2 separate regions of the Homo sapiens genome follow, and region 2 is linked to region 1. Evidence: fine-mapped expression QTL. Tissue or cell type: lung. Region 1 holds a variant in brackets; the other region holds the start of a gene. All regions are shown on one strand. Distances are from middle to middle.

What was found. PIP is the estimated chance that this variant, and not a neighbour inherited with it, causes the effect.
Region 2: it holds the start of ABCC6, and the variant in region 1 is fine-mapped to the expression of ABCC6 in lung (TOPMed, PIP above 0.99).

The regions. Positions count from the first base shown.
Region 1 is chr16:16,150,515-16,158,620 of GRCh38, forward strand. ABCC6 (ATP binding cassette subfamily C member 6) reads right to left here. Exons shown (of 31, transcript NM_001171.6): 27 at 7,149-7,295; 28 at 4,359-4,517; 29 at 4,114-4,280; 30 at 64-258. Among named protein-coding and RNA genes, the nearest start is that of ABCC6, 69 kb to the right of the region's middle. RefSeq lists a silencer at 1-112. The variant G/A (reference allele first, on the strand shown) is at 4,310.
Region 2 is chr16:16,218,446-16,226,551 of GRCh38, forward strand. ABCC6 (ATP binding cassette subfamily C member 6) reads right to left here and starts at 5,049. Exons shown (of 31, transcript NM_001171.6): 1 at 4,954-5,049; 2 at 3,204-3,386; 3 at 1,377-1,502; 4 at 1,109-1,237. The coding sequence starts at 4,989.

The DNA.
Region 1 (8,106 bases):
CTCCGCCTCCTTCCCCCACCACTGCAGGGCTGCTGTGAGGTCAGGCCGGGGCGGGAGCCTTACCGGGCACAGTCCATCACGGAGCGCAGGCGGTGGGCAATGAGCAGCACAGTGCACTGTGCAAACCAGCTCCCGAGCATGGCCTGCATCTGCAGCTCCGTGCCAGGGTCCACGGCAGCAGTAGCCTCGTCCAGGATGAGGATCTGGGTCTTCCGGAGAAGGGCACGTGCCAGACACAGGAGCTGTTTCTGGCCCACGCTGGGAACGATTGGGACAATTAGCTGGGACGTGCGTTTGTCGGCACATGGTGATGTGTGGGTGTGCCCAGAAACAGGTCCCTGAAGCAGTGCAGGAGTGAGGTGCCTGTGTTCAGGCATCCCCACACATGGGGTCTGGGGTCTGTGGTCTGCAGAACTGATAGGAAGCCTGTTCCTGCCATCTTTGAGCAGGCTGACTGTAGGCAGGTCATTCAAACCCTTTGTGCCTCAGTTTCCCCACCTGTGAAATGGCTATTTTCTTTTTTCTGTTTATGGCTCTTTTTTTCTTCTTCGTTTTTCTTTTTTTTTTTGAGACGGAGTCTTGCTCTGCCACCCAGGCTGGCGTGCAATGGCACAATCTCAGCTCGCTGCAACTTCTGCCTCCCGGTTCAAGCAGTTTTCCTGCCTCAGCCTCCCAAGTAGCTGGAATTACAGTCATGCGCCACCATGCCTGGCTTTTGTATTTTTAAAGTAGAGATGGGGTTTCACCATGTTGGTCCGACTTGTTTGAAACTCTCAGGTGATCCACCTACCTCAGCCTCCCAAAGTGCTGGGATTACAGGCGTGAGCCACTGCGCCCCGGTAGTTCTATTTCTAGTTTGTTTTTTGAGAAATCATCATACTATTTTCCATAGTGACTGTACTAATTTATATTTCCCCCAACAGCGAAAGCACAGCTTTCACTTCAGTCATGCCGTTGCAAACAAACCTACAATGACTGACTGCTGCTTCAAGAATCAAATCTACAGTCTTCCTAAGACATTCAAGGCTGGTGTCACGTGGGCCTTAAATACAGATGTGTACAACACCTGGGTGGGATTCCAGGCGTGATCCACCGTGCCTGGCCTGTTTATGGCTATGTCCAGTTCTATTTCTAGTTTCCACCTTGTGCCAAACACATTCTAAGTGCTTGTATATATTCACTCAATCCTCATAATGTCCACCAAGGTAGATATTATTGTTCTCTTCTTTTGAGAGAAGAGGACACAGATACAGAGAAGCTCAGTGGCTTGACCAAGGTCTCAAGGCTAGTGGTGGGTCCATAATTTGAACCCAAGTCCTCTGACCCCAGAGTCTGTGCTCCTAATGGATCCGTCCTCGCTGAATCGTGACGACATGGCACATAAAAGTGTGTGGGTGGCGGGGCACGGCGGCTCACACCTGTAATCCCAGCACTTTGGGAGGCTGAGGTGGGCGGATCACGAGATCAGGAGATCGAGACCATCCTGGCTAACACGGTGAAACCCTGTATGTACTAAAAATACAAAAAATTAGCCGGGCGTGGTGGCGGGCGCTTGTAGTCCCAGGTACTCAGGAGGCTGAGGCAGAAGAATGGTGTGAACCCGGGAGGCAGAGCTTGCAAGTGAGCCAAGATCGCGCCACTGCACTCCAGCCTGGGCGACAGAGCAAGACTCTGTCTCAAAAAAAAAAAAAAAAAAAAAAAGTGTGTAGGCTTGTCACAGAATAAGCCCTTGGCATGGAGTAGCACCCTTCGTGGAGGGTGGAGGAGTTGAGATTCCAGGTTGTGAGCCCAGTGAGCCCCTGACCCAGGTGGGAACTGACCCCTGGGGCCCCAGCATGGCTGTCTTGCACAGTAAGCCCTTCCATGAAACAGCATCCTTTTACATGATCAGAACCTACTATGGTCATGCAGGCGTTAGAGTGCCTGGGTCTTGTCCCAACCTCACTACTTTTAAGCTGTGTGACGTCAGGCAAGCCCCAGGCCTCCAATTCCAACTCTGTGAAATGATGTTATCAGGAGTGTGACTCAGGACTAAAATGAGTATTTACTCTTTGCTCTATGCCTGCCACTGTTTCAACAACTTTGTGCATATAATTCAATCCTTGCAAGGTAGGTAGGTGCTATTATTCCCACCTTACAGATGAGGAAACTGAGGCACACAAGATAAGTTGCCTAAGATCCTACAGCTAGTAAGTGGCAGGGCGGGGCGGGGGTGGGGGTGTGGGGTGGGGGGCCTGGATTTGAGCCCAGGCAGTCTGTCACCTGTGTATACTCTTACCCACCAAGCAACGCTGCCTCTCTAGTGCTGGAAATTATTGCCTACCACAAGCCCTTCGGACACCCTCAGGGTCAGAGGGGTTTATAAATCCAGAACACCTTAGGTTTTTTTTTGTTTTTTTTGAGACGGAGTCTTACTCTGTCACCCAGGCTGGAGTGCAGTGGCACAATCTTGGCTCACTGAAACCTCTGCCTCCCGGGTTCAAGCGATTCTCCTGTCTCAGTGTCTTAGCCTCCCACGTAACTGGGATTACAGGCGCCTGCCGCCACACCCAGCTAATTTTTGTATTTTTAGTAGAGACGGGGCTTCACCATATTGGTCAGGCTGGTCTTGAACTCCTGACCTCAGGTGATCCACCCGCCTCGGCCTCCCATAGTGCTAGGATTACAGGCATGAGCCACCGCGCCCAGCCACTTTGGTTTTTCTAAAGGCATATACCTATACACCTATGTTCATAGTGGCATTATTCAAAACGGCCAAGAGGTGGAAACAGCCTGGGTATCTACTGGCAGATAAACGGATAAGCAAAATGTGGTCTATCCATGTAGTGGAAAATTATTCGGCCTTAAAAAGGTAGAGAATCTGACACATGCTACGATGTGGATGACCCTTGAAGACATCATGCTGTGTGAAATAAGCCAGTCACAAAAGGACAGATCCTATGATTCTGCGTCTATGCAGTGTCTAGAGTAGTCACACTCAGAGAGACAGGAGAATGCTGGTGGCTGGGCGCTGGGGGAGGGGACAAGGAGAGTTAGGGTTTCATGGGTACAGAGTTGTAGTTCTGTTGTGTAACAGTGTGAATGTACCTAACACTACAGAAACTATACACTGAAAAATGGGTGAGATGGGCCCGGCGTGGCTGCTCACACCTGTAATCCCAGCACTTTGGGAGGCCTACGCAAGTTCGACTGTAGCCTGGGCAACATGGTGAAACCCTGTCTCTACAAAAAATAAAAAGATTACCTGGCCCTGGTGGCTCACACCTGTAACCCCAGCTACTCGGGAGGCTGAGGTGGGAGGAATGCTTGAGCCTGGGAGGTGGAGGTTGCAGCGAGCCTTGACCTCACCACTGCACTCTAGCCTGAATGACAGAGCCAGACCCTGTCTCCAAAGAAAAAGAAAAAAAAAAAAAAAGGTTGAGATAGTAAATTTTATGTGTATCTTTCCACACAGCTTTTTGTTGTTGAGACGAAGCCCAGGATGGAGTGCAGTGGTGCAATATCGGCTCACTGCAACCTTCGCCTCCCTGGCTCAAGCGTTCTTCCCACCTCAGCCTCCCAAGTAACTAGGACTACAGGTGCATGCCACCATACCTGGCTAATACTGTTGTCCACAGAGATAGGGTCTTGCTATGTTGCCCAGACTAGTCTCGAACTCCTGGGCTCAAGCAATCCTCCTCTCTCAGCCTCCTGAAGTGCTGGGATTACAGGCATGAGCCACTGTGCCCAGTCCACACTTGACATTTACCAAAAAAAAAAATCCTATATTATAGTCCCAGTGAGTGGTGAGGTTACCACCCGATATCAAACAATATTTTCATAGCAAAATAAATACTGAGCAAGAGCAATAAAGGCTATCAGTAGCCCTGTGTCAGTTGAGGTTGGGTTTTGCCACCAAGTAAATATAGAAGACTAACTGCTAATTTAGGGGGGAAAACCTTGGTATTCAGAGACTGTGTCAGAGCTTGGAATTGCAGATAAGAGACATGTGGTTATTAATGTAACAGAGTGATAATCCTATCGGGGGAGGCATTTCCTGAAGGCCCTTGGGGAGGGCATGGCCATCCCCTCCTCTCCCACCTGCAGGTCCCAGCCATGGTGGGACGACCATACCTCAGGTCCTCGCCTCGGTCAGCACACTTGTACTGCAGCTGGCCGGGCAGGCTGGCCACCAAGGCTTTGAGCTGCACCGTCTCCAGGGCTGCCCAGATAGCCTCGTCCGAGTGCTCCTGCAGCAGGTCGAGGTTCATCCGCAGAGAGCCAGGGAACAGGATGGGGTCCTGGCGGGGAGGGGCGGTGGGTCAGAGCC[G/A]GGTCCCACCATGCCTCCCATCTTTGCCCACCCCCTCCACCAGCCTCACCTGGGGGATGATGCTGATCCTGGAGCGCAGTGTGTGCAGCCCCACGTGGGCAATGGGGACCCCGTCGATCCAGATCCCACCCTCAGCTGCCTCCTGGAGCCGCAGCAGCCCACTGGCCAGGGAGGACTTCCCTGCCCCGGTCCTGCCAACGATGCCCACCTGCCCGGGGTTGGGAGGAAAGGCCTGCTCTGACCAGAGGGTTTGTGGGCATTTATTGGGGAGATCTTTCTGCTGTACCCGAGATCTGTCTATCCATCCCTCATTGTGTAAAGGTCTACCTTCCATCTCTCTTTCCATCTGTCTACCTTTCTATATATCCACCCATCAATCCATCCAGTCTTCCATCTGTGTTCTTCTCTATCTTTCCCTTATCCTGATATCTCTCTCCCATCTTTCTCCCCACCCTTCCTTTAGTTCCTCCATCTTTCCTCATCCTTCTATTTACACCTCTCCATCATCTCTCATCCTTTTTTCTACCCCATCCCATCCATCTGTCTGTCCGTCCATCCATCCCTTATCCTTTTTTCCACCCCATCCTGCCATCCATCCATCCATCATCCATCCTCAATCCCATCCCTCCATCTCTCTTCCACCCCATTCCATTCATCCATCCATTCATCTGTCTATCCGTCTCTCGTTTCTTCTTCCCTATTCATCCATCAATTCACTAATCCTTTCATTCATTTATTTTCTCCCATCCATCCATCCAGTCCATCCTTCCCTCATCCATCCTTCCATTCATCCTCCATCTTATCCATGTGTCCATTCTGTTATCCATCTCCCATGCTGTTATCCACCCTCCATCCTTATCTCTCTTGCTACTATTGCATCCTCAGTGTCTGACACATGGTGTGGGTTCAACATTATTTGTTTAATTAATGATGGAAACATGTGGGTCACCCCACTGTATGCCAAGTACCTGTTTAGGCACCGGAAGTATAGAAATTAAAGAGTCCTTGCTCCAGTGTGCCCATCATCCGGTCTAGGAAACAGTGCAATTGAGTAAATGTAATACAGTGTGATGAACAATGCTTTATTTATTTATTTATTTATTTATTTTTGAGATAAAGTCTTGCTCTATTGCCCAGGCTGGAGTGCAGTGGTGCGATCTCAGCTCACTGCAACCTCCACCTCCCAGGTTCAAGCAATTCTCCTGCCTCAGCCTCCCTAGTAGCTGGGACTGCAGGTGCCTGTCACCATGCTCGGCTAATTTTTGTATTTTTAGTAGACACGGGATTTCACCATGTTGGCCAGGCTGGTCTCAAACTTCTGGCCTCAAGTGATCTGCCCACCTTGGCCTCCTAAAGTGCTGGGATTACAGGTATAAGCCACAGCACCCAGCCAACAATGCTGTTTATTATCAAGGTCTGGACCTCTGGCAATTAAGGGAAGCAAGGCAGTGCTGCTCATGCTGCCTGGGATTTGACAGAGGTAATAAGAGAAGACCTCATGGAGGAAGGGATACTTGCATGGAAGCTTGAAGGATCAATAGGAGTTCAAGGAAGGGGAACACTCCAGGTAAACCACACCAAGTGGGTTTCCAAAACTAGAAGCTCATGGAGCTCACAGCACCATGTGCCCCCCTGGCCGAGAGGCAGCTGCTCCACAATGTTGGCTAAGCCCTGGCAGAGCAATGAATGAGAGGGGGAGGTTGGCAGGGCCTGGGTTGGGTAGAGCCTTGAATGCCAAGCTCAGGAATTCACACTTTACCCCAAGGGAAGCTGGAACTAGTAGAAGGTTTTGAGCAGGGGAATGACATGCAGTGTCATTCATGCTGATAAAGGTCACAGGATGGCTGGGCATGGTGGGTCATGCCTGTAGTCCCAGCACTTTGGGAGGCCGAGGGGGGTGATTGAGGTCAGAAGTTTCATAGCAGCCTGGCCAACATGGTGAAACCCTGTCTCTACTAAAAATACAAAAATTAGCCGGGTGTGGTGGCAGGTGCCTGTAATCCCAGCTACTCAGGAGGCTGAGGCAGGAGAATCACTTGAATCTGGGAGGCGGAGGTTGCAGTGATCTAAGGTCACACCACTGCACTCCAGCCTGGGCAACAGAGTGAGACTCTGTCTCAAAAAAAAAAAAAAAAAAAAATCACAGGAGAGCAGATTGGAGCTGGTGAGACAGGATCCACTGCTTTTTAGGGGACAAGGAGAGGACAGGGAGGAAGCCTCTGTAGGTTCAGAGGGAGGGAGGAAAGGGATTCAGTGAAGGGGCCTGATGAGGCATCTGTAAAATGGGATAGTACTAGCACCTCACTTAGGGGTTGTTGTGAGAGTGAAAACGCAAATAATAAAAGCATTAGTAAACATTTCTGGAGCACTTTCTATGAGCTAAGCATGTTCTATGTATTAACTCAAACTTCACAACAACTCAGAGATCAGTATTACCAGTCCCAATTTACAGATGGGAAAACTGAGACTGAGCTATGAAGTGCTTTTCCCAATGTCTCCCAGCTGAAAGCAAATATCCCATTTGTGCAAACTGGAAAATGTACCTGGAGCATTTAACACACTGCCCAGCACATATTAGGTGCTGGGTTAATGTTAAAGGAAGAAGGAAGTCACGGAGTTGCTTCCTCATCTGGGGACACCAAGGTGGATGAGGAAGTCACCAGATGGAAGCAGGTTTGGGGAAGGTGAGGAGTTCATTTTAGGGGGTAATGGGTCTGAAAGCTAGGGGACCTGAGGTGGGGACACTGTGGAGGTGGCTGGTGCCCAGGGTTTAGGGCCTTGTCCCTGGAGTCCTTTGGCCTAAACTCCATGAAGAAGACATTGTGAGAGAACCACTCACCTTCTCTCCTGCGTGGATCTTGAAGGACACGCCCTGCACAGCCAGCGGGAGCTCAGGTCGGTATCTTAGCCCAAAGTCCCGGAACTCGATCTGCCCGCCCTGAGGCCAGGGGGGCTGAGCTGCACATGTGGGCAGCCTCCAGGGAGCCTGGAGCAGGAGGGGAAACTGAGTCAGAGGAGCCTTCCTCTAAGACTTCACACAAGATGGCCCACCTCTATCAGCTTCAGTTTTCTCTTCCGCAAAATGGACGTATTTATTGCTGTTTTACAGGGTTGTTATGGGAATTCAACAAGAGAGGGCATGGACTATGTCAATGCTAAAAACAGATGGTGGTGGCTACTTTTAGTCTATTTTATTGTTATTATTAGCCACTGTTTATTATAAAATAATCTCTTTTTCTATAGTGGGAGCAGACATTTCTCTTTGTCTTTGTGAAAGGACATGACTGTGCAGTGGGAAGACCAATACTGCCTTTGCTGTTCCCGTGACCTTGAACAGATCATTCTACCCCCTTGAGTCTTGGTTTTCCAATCTGGGAAATAGGGCTAATAAGAGCAGCAGACATGTATTGAGTGTTTGCAATGGACCAGGCACTCTATTAAATCATTTCTTTGCAGGATCTCATTTGATCCTCCCAGTAAACTCAACGCTGTTATGTTACTGTTACATTAGTGCTATGCTGCTGTTCTTATCCTTTCTTCCACCCAATCCCATCCATCCATTCATCCATCCATCTCTTATCCTTTATCCACCCCATCCCACCCATCCATCCATCCATGCATCCATCCATCCATCTCCAATCCCATCCCTCCATCTCTCATTCTTCCATCCCATTCCATCCATTCATCTGTCCATCTCTCACCATTTCTTCTACCCTATTCATCAACTAATTAATTCTTCCTTGTTCTGTTACTGTAATGTTACTGTTATATTGCTAACACATTATATCATGTTGCTG
Region 2 (8,106 bases), 68 kb after region 1:
GGGTGACTTTGTCCTCCTCACCCCCAGGGACACTTGGTAATATCTGGAGACATTTTGGGTTACTGCAATTGGATGGTATGCTACTGGCACCTATGGGCAGAAGCCAGGGATGCTGTTTCACACCCTGCAGCAAACAAGACAGCCCTGTCCACCCAACAAAGAATTGTCTGGCCACAACATTACTAAAGCTGAGGCTGAGGGAAGTTGGTCTAGGCTACATGTTTTTCTCTTTACAGAGAAAATGACCCATCATGTCTCCTAATAGAGAAACGCTGCTTCCGGCCGAATGACAAGAGCTCACGCCTGTAATCCCGACACTTTGGGAGGCCAAGGCAGGTGGATCACTTGAGGTCAGGAGCTCGAGACCAGCCTGGCCAACATGGTGAAACCTCGTCTCTACTAAAAATACAAAAATTTTTAGTAGAAATTTAGTAGAAATTTTTAGTAGAAATTTAGTAGAAATTTAGAATAAGCCAGGTGTAGTGGCACACACCTGTAATCCCAGCTACACAGGAAGCAGAGGCAGGAGAAGTGCTTGAACCCGAGAGGCAGAAATTGCAGTGAGCTGAGATCATGCCACTTCATTCCAGTCTGGGCGACAGAGCAAGCCTCTCAAAAAAAAAAAAAAAAAAAAAAAAAAAAAAGCTGCTTCCCAGATTGGGCAACAGAAATACGAGTGGTGTGCAGAATGAGTGTGTAAATATAGGTGCATAGGAACATGGGGAGGGTGAATCCATGACATGAGGGGAGGTGTGCACGGAGGGGTATGTGTGCACACAGGTGTGTCTGTGCCCAGGTTGTGTGTGTGTGCGTGCATGCATGTACTTGTGCGATGTATGAATCAGTGCCTATAAGTGTGTGCATCGTGTGCAAGTGGCACGTGTGATGTGGGCCTGTAAGACAGGAAATTGTGTTGATAAGAAATGTATGGGATGATGGGTACTGACAGGTGCGGGAGTGGATTTTGTGTCTCTAGAGTGTAAGTGACTGGCTTGTGTGTGTCACTGTATAGAGAATAAGTTGTATGTGGAAACAGGAGGAGAAAGGAAGGGACCCAAGGCATGAGCCACCATTTTGGTTTCCCAGGGTGGCCCACGCCCCGACTTACCGCTCCGGAGGCCTGCTGGGCAGCGTTGGTAGCTGGCAAGACAAAGCAGAGAAGCCAGTAACCAAACAGCACTCCAGATGACTGGACTCCCTTTTTCCTCTCGGTGTGAATCAGGAACACTGCGAAGCTCTGGACGGGAAAGTCAGGGAGGCCCCTTAGGGGAGGGTGGGAGGCTGAGGGGAGCCTCTTCTCTTCCCCTTGTTCTCCACTGTGGCAGGCAAAGCAGCAGCTGGGAGGAAGCCGGGCTCCAGACTGAAGGCATCATTACCATCGTGGTGAGCCACACAGTAGGATGAATGAGGAATTCTGGGGCCTCAGGCGTTCCCTGTTGGATTTTCCAAAGAGCGACAGCCACGCTGGAGGTACACAGGACTATGAGGGCGAATCCAAGCACCTGAGGATACAGGCTTAGATAAGCTTGGGGGGCAATAAGAGAGGTCACAGCAAACTGGTAGGCGGCCCCATGTCCAACTGGGAGCTGGTTCTGCAACATCCTGGCTGATACTGAGTATACCAGGGTCACCAGCTAGCAACGTGCCAATGTGAACAATGTGTAAAGGGCATTGCAGATCACTCCTGACCTGTAACTGTCATATAAATAATGCACAGGAAGGGCTTGAGCCAACCGAGTGTTTTCCAAAATGCAGGAAGTGCTCCAATCGTGCACATATGAGATGACTGTGGGTATGGAGAAACAGCAGGAAATGAAATGTACTCACCAGGTAAAAAACTATCCTTTCTCCAAGTCATTTTTCAATCCCTGCTATGAAATCAAGGAGCAACTCTCTGTTGGGCCAGTAAGTCTCTAGGGTCTCTCTAATATATTTTGGTTTCTCTATTGAATAAAAGAAAGGAAGAAAATGAGAGAACGTGGGCACACCAGAGGGAAGGCCAGAGCTAGGTTACGTTGGAGGAACTGCTCAAAGAACCTCAGTTTAAAGCAGAAGTTGGCAAACTATCAATCATCAAAGAAAAACAAAAAGCATATGTCATGACAGGTGAAAATTACATGAAATCCAAATTTCAGTGACTACAAATAAAGTTTTATTGAAACGCAGTCGGCCGGGGGTGGTGGCTTACACCTGTAATCCCAGCACTTTGGCAGGCCAAGGCAGGCAGATCACCTGAGGTCAGGAGTTGGAGACCAGCCTGGCCAACATGGCGAAACCCTGTTTCTACTAAAAATACAAAAAAATAGCGAGGTGTGGGGGTGGGCACCTGTAATCCCAGCTACTCGGGAAGCTGAGGCAGGAGAATCACTTGAACCCAGGAGGCGGAGGTTGCAGTGAGCCGAGATCGCACCATTGCACTCCAGCCTGGGTAACAAGAGCAAAACTGCATCTCAAAAAAAAAAAACAAACAAAAAAGTAACACAGTCATGACTATTGTCTATGGTTATGACTATTGCGTTCATTCTGGAATGGCAGAGTTCAGTGTTCGGAAGGAAGATTACCTGGCTCACAAAGTCTCAAATACTGTGTACCGCTTGGCTCTTTAAGTTTGCCAACCCCTGGGTTGGTGGCGGGTGATAATGTAAAAATTAATACAATGGCAGAAGAATGAATGAACTCTGAAGAACATTCTTTGGAAGCCTACAAGAATGGAGTAGAAGAGGATGGATGAGCAGAAAGGCTCACACTTGGAATGCCAGTGTTTATTTAACACACTAAGGTAAATACATATCACATATAAAAATTGTCCTATAATACAGCCAGTGGGGGAACATAAAAATAAATGCATAACTTTTTAAAAGGTTCATCCTAATGTGGCTCTAAAATTACCTTGTGTATCCAAGAGTCTACATGGTATGTTTTGGAAAATGCCAGGTTATGGTAGCTATAAACTGTCCAGGAACATGGGAGTGTATGCGTATGTTTGCGCATGCGTGGATTTTCGGAATTACAAAATCTGTTTGGGAGAACCGTGTTCCACTGAGTTGACCTCTGTAGCCTTTCTAATATTGCTCTGTTTGATTAACAGATTCCCTTCTACACCCCGATAGGAGGAGTCTACTTTAAGACTTCACCAGGTTCCAGCCTGTCCCCTGCCTCCCCCGAACATTGCCTGGTTCCAGGCTCCCAGGGATGGCAGCTACCATCTTGGCTTTGAAGAGTGGGGACATCCGGAGGTAGCCCCGGCCATGGTGGTGGATGAAGAGGAGGTAGATGGGACCAAGGACCCAGAGGTACATGGGGGGTACCCAGACCCCTGCTGTTCTCAGGAAGCACAGGCTCAGCAGGCTGGTGGCGGCAGGTTCAGGCTCTGTCTGGTTCCAGACCTGAGGGAACACAAAGAGGACCCTTAGGATGGTACAAGGCAGGGGTCCCCAGCTCACCTGCCCAGGGGGCCAGGCAACTTTTTGGATCTTTAACATTTACACAAAAATGTACCAAGTACTCTTTGGAATACCTACTAATTCTCAATTCCTTTCATCCTGACATTAACCCTAGGTAGTTGCAATTATATTGATTTGCAGATGAAGAAGCTGAGGACCAGAGAGGTTGAGTAACTTTGCTGACTTTACCCAGCTGAGGAGTGGAAGGGCTGGGATTTGAACCCAGGGAACTGGGCCATGTGGTCTAGGAGACCTGGGCTCCATAATCATTGCTAGGCATGGACTGTCAGTTAATCCTTATAACAACTCCAGGACGCAGACAGTACTGTCTCCATTTCAGAAACCAGCAGACTGAGGCACCAGTCGGGGAACTGCCTCCCCCAGGGACACACAAATGGGAAGTGGCAAAGCTGACTCTGACCCAGGCTTATCTGACCCCAAACCTCGTTCGACTGGTGGTCTTGATGTATGATTTGTTTTTATTTTTTATTATTAATTAATTTATGTTTTAGAGACAGGGTCTCACTCTGTTGCCCAGGCTGAAGTGGCACAATCAAAGCTCAACAAAGCTTCGAATTTCCTGGGCTCAAGCAATCCTCCCACCTCGGCCTCCCAGAGTGCTGGGATTACAGGCATAAGCAGCCTCACCAGGCCTGGCTAATTTTTTTTTTTTATGTTTTGTAGAGATGGGGGTCTCTCTATGCTGGTCTCGAACTCCTGGTCTCAAGCAATCCTCCTGCCTCAGCCTCCTAGGTACTGGGATTACAGGCAAGAGCCACCGGCCCAGCTTGATCTGTTATTTTCATCTCAGCAGGTCTGCTGGTCCTATCTAACCCTAGAAGAAATTTGAAGTTTAGTGGACGTGGCCTCTTCAATTCTCTCTCCGCTGTCTTTTTACTCCTCCTGGTTTCACAACTCACCGGCTGTGCAAACTTTAACCTCTCTGTATCTCAGTTTCCTTCCCTGTAAAAGGGGGAAAACGAGACTCTACCTCTATGAGTTGTATTAAATGGATTAATAGCAGCAAAGTTCATAGCAGCATGGCACAAGGTTGGGCACAAGGCTAGGCACAGAGAAAGCCCTCAGTTCATTGCCAGTTTATTGCTTCAACTCCCTGGCCCTCGAAATGCTGGCAGTTTGCAACCCCCACCCCCACTCCATGAACTCCACTCCCTGGAGTCCTTTGCTAAGAGCAATGGAAAAAGAAACCAGAGAGGTAAGGGCTCTCCGGGGGTAGGAGGGCTTGGGGGACCCACTAGCTTTATGCAAAGAAGAGTCAAAGCCCCTAGTAGCTGGGAGGTCTGGTGGCCCCTTAAATAGAGCTGGGCTCTCGGCTGCTGGCTTGGTGAAAGAAATCCAACCCGCTGCAGTGAGGGGGCCGGAGTAAGTCTCCTCGCTTCCCGGGTCCAGGAATTTGGGGGTCTCTCCTCTCCCCAGTATCGCAGCCCGAGAGATCTGCAGCCAAACCAAGCCTGGAAAAGGAGAGTGGGGCGCGATGGGGGGCACTCACCCCCTGCCCCGCGCAGGGCTCAGCAGGCGCGGCCATCGGCGCCTTCTGTCGTCGTGGGTCCCAGCGTCTGTCTGTCGCTAAGTCTCTGGGCAGACTGCTCGGCCGCGATCCTGCCGGAGAAGAGGCGGGGCTGGGCTGGTCGGGCTGGGCTGGTCCGGCTGGGATTCGAGCTCCGGGATCGGGAGGCCCCGGGCAAGGTCCAGCTGCGCGGCGGGAGTGAGGCCACGGGAGGTGAAAACAGGCGAGGTGGGGGATGGGGGAAGAGAGGCGCTCGGGGAGCTGGGACGGGCACCGGGTTGGGGGGTCCCGGAACCCCTGAAAGTTCAGTGACACCTCCATAGTTCCCTCTTCCCCCTGCAACAAGAATCACTCCAGACTTCCTAAACACTTTGGACCCAGCAATTTCCAGGAGTTCATCCTGATGAGAGAACTGAAAGGTGTGCACACGTTAGTAACAAGGAGGCCTGGTGACCGCCTAAGCGTCCAATCGCGGGGACCACCGGGTCGAGGCCGAGAGGATGGAGACCGCGTCACAGGCACCTCGCTGCTGGAATGGAGGGTGGTGGGGAGAACTTAGAAGATTATGCAATGGGCTGGCAGGGCTATACCCAGCCGCCCTGGTAAGCAGAAACTCAAGAAACCTCTAGGGTCCTGTTTTCTGGTCGTATGATCCCAGGAGTGCACATGGGCCCCTCGGGTGTCTGAACAGAAGGGCATAGGAGGGAGGGCCGCAGCCCTGCAGTCTTACTCTGCTGGTGTAGCGGTCACCTGCCAACTCCCACCCCACCCTGCACCGCGGGCTCCTGAGTCGGCAGATTAAGCATTTTATAAATTCTATTTTAAATACGTGTTTTAAACTTGTCAGATATTTGTCTTCATTTCAGTCCCTGCGCCTCTACCTCTTGCTGTGGTCGCTTATTTAACACTGGGGGGCTACGTTCTGCTAAGTCCCAGGGAGAGACTGTTCCTAATATCCGAGGGAGATATTATTCCTAATATCACGCTGGGTGAACACCACGTGTGTACAGCCTCTGATACGATTGGTAATATCCAAGGGAGATATTATCCTAACATCCCAGTGGGTGAACACCATGTGTGTAAACGCTGTGGTATTATTAGAAATATCCAAGGGAGATATTACTCCTAATATCACAGTGGGTGTACATCCTGTGATATTATTCGTAATATCTGAAGGAGATTTTACTCCTAATATCACAGTGGGAGTACACACTGTGATATTATTTGTAATATCCGAGGGAGATTTTACTCCTAATATCACAGTAGGTGTACAACCTGTGATATTATTCATAATATGCTAGAGATATATTACTCCAAATCTCATGGTGGGTGTACACTCTGTCATAGAATTCGTGATATCCTAGGGAGTTATTACCGCTAATATCACAGTGAGAGTACACCCTGTGATATTATTCATACTATCCTAGAAAGATATTACTTTTAATATCACAGAGGGTGTACACCCTGTGATATTATTCATAATATTCTATGAAGATATAACTCCTGATATAACCGTAGGTGTATACCCTGTGATATTATTTGTTATATCCTAGGGAGATACTACACCTAATACCACAGTGGGTGTACACCCTGTGATATGATTTGTAATATCCTAGGGAGATATAACTCCTAATATCACAGAGGGAGTACACCCTGTAATATTATTCATAATATCCTAGAAAGATAATACTTTCAATATCACAGTGGGTGTACACTCTGTGATAATATTCGTAATTTCCTAGGGAGATACTACTCCTAATATCACCTTGAGTGTACACTGCGTGATATTATTCGTAATATCGTAGGGAGCTATTGCTTTTAATTTCACAGTGGGTGTATACCCTATGATATTATTCATAATATCTTAAGAAGGTAGTACTCCTAAAATCACAGTGCCTGTACACACTGTGATATTATTCATAATATTCTAGGGAGATGTTACTCCTAATCTCATAGTGGGTGTACACCTTGTGATACTATTTGTAATGTTCTAGAAAGATATTCCTTTTAATATCACAGTGGGTGTACACCCTGTGATATGATTCGAAATATTCTAGGGCGATATTACTCCTAATATCCCAGTGAATTTACACCATGCGTGTACACGCTGTGACCTCCCAGAAAGATATGACTCCTAATATCACAGTGGGGGTACACCCTGTGCTATTATTTGTAATACCCTATGGATATCATAATATCACAATGAACGTACACCATTGTGTACATGCTGTGATATTATTTGTAATATTTTTGGGTGATATTACCCCTAATGTCACAGTGCGTGTACATCTTTTGATATTATTTGTAATATTCTGTGGAGATATTGCCCCTAATATCACAGTGGGTGTATACTCTTTGATACTATTCGTAACATCCTGGAAGATATTATCCATATTGTCACGGTGGGTGTACACCCTGTGATATTATTCGTTATATTCTGGGGATATACTATTACCCCTAATATACTGTGGGTGTACCCCCTGTGATATTATTCACTATATCTTGGAGATATAATATTACCCCTAATATCACAGTGGGTGTATACTTTGTGATATTATTCATTATATCCTGAAGAGATATTATTTCCTTTAATATCACAGTGCATGTACACCTTGTGATATTATTTGTTATATCCTGGGGAGATACTACTATATTACTCCTAGTATCACAGTGGCTGTACGCCTTGTGATACTATTCATTATATCCTGGGGAGATATTATTACTCCTAATATCACAGTAAGTGTATACCCTGTGATATTATTCATAATATCCTGGGAGATATTACCCATATTGTCACAGTGGGTGTACATCCTGTAATATTATTTGTAATATCCTGGGGAGATATTATTACTCCTAATAGCACAGTGGGTGTACACCCTGTGATATTATTGGTTATATCCTGGGGAGGTATTATTATTCCTAATATCACAGTGGGTGAACATTCTGTAATATTATTCATTATATTTTGGGGAGATATTAATTCCTCTAATATCACAGTGGGTGTACACCCTGTGATATTATTCATTATATCCTGGGAAGATATTAATCCCTCTAATATCACAGTGGGTGTACACCCTGTAATATTATTCATTATATCCTGGGAAGATATTATTTCCTCTAATATCACAGTGGGTG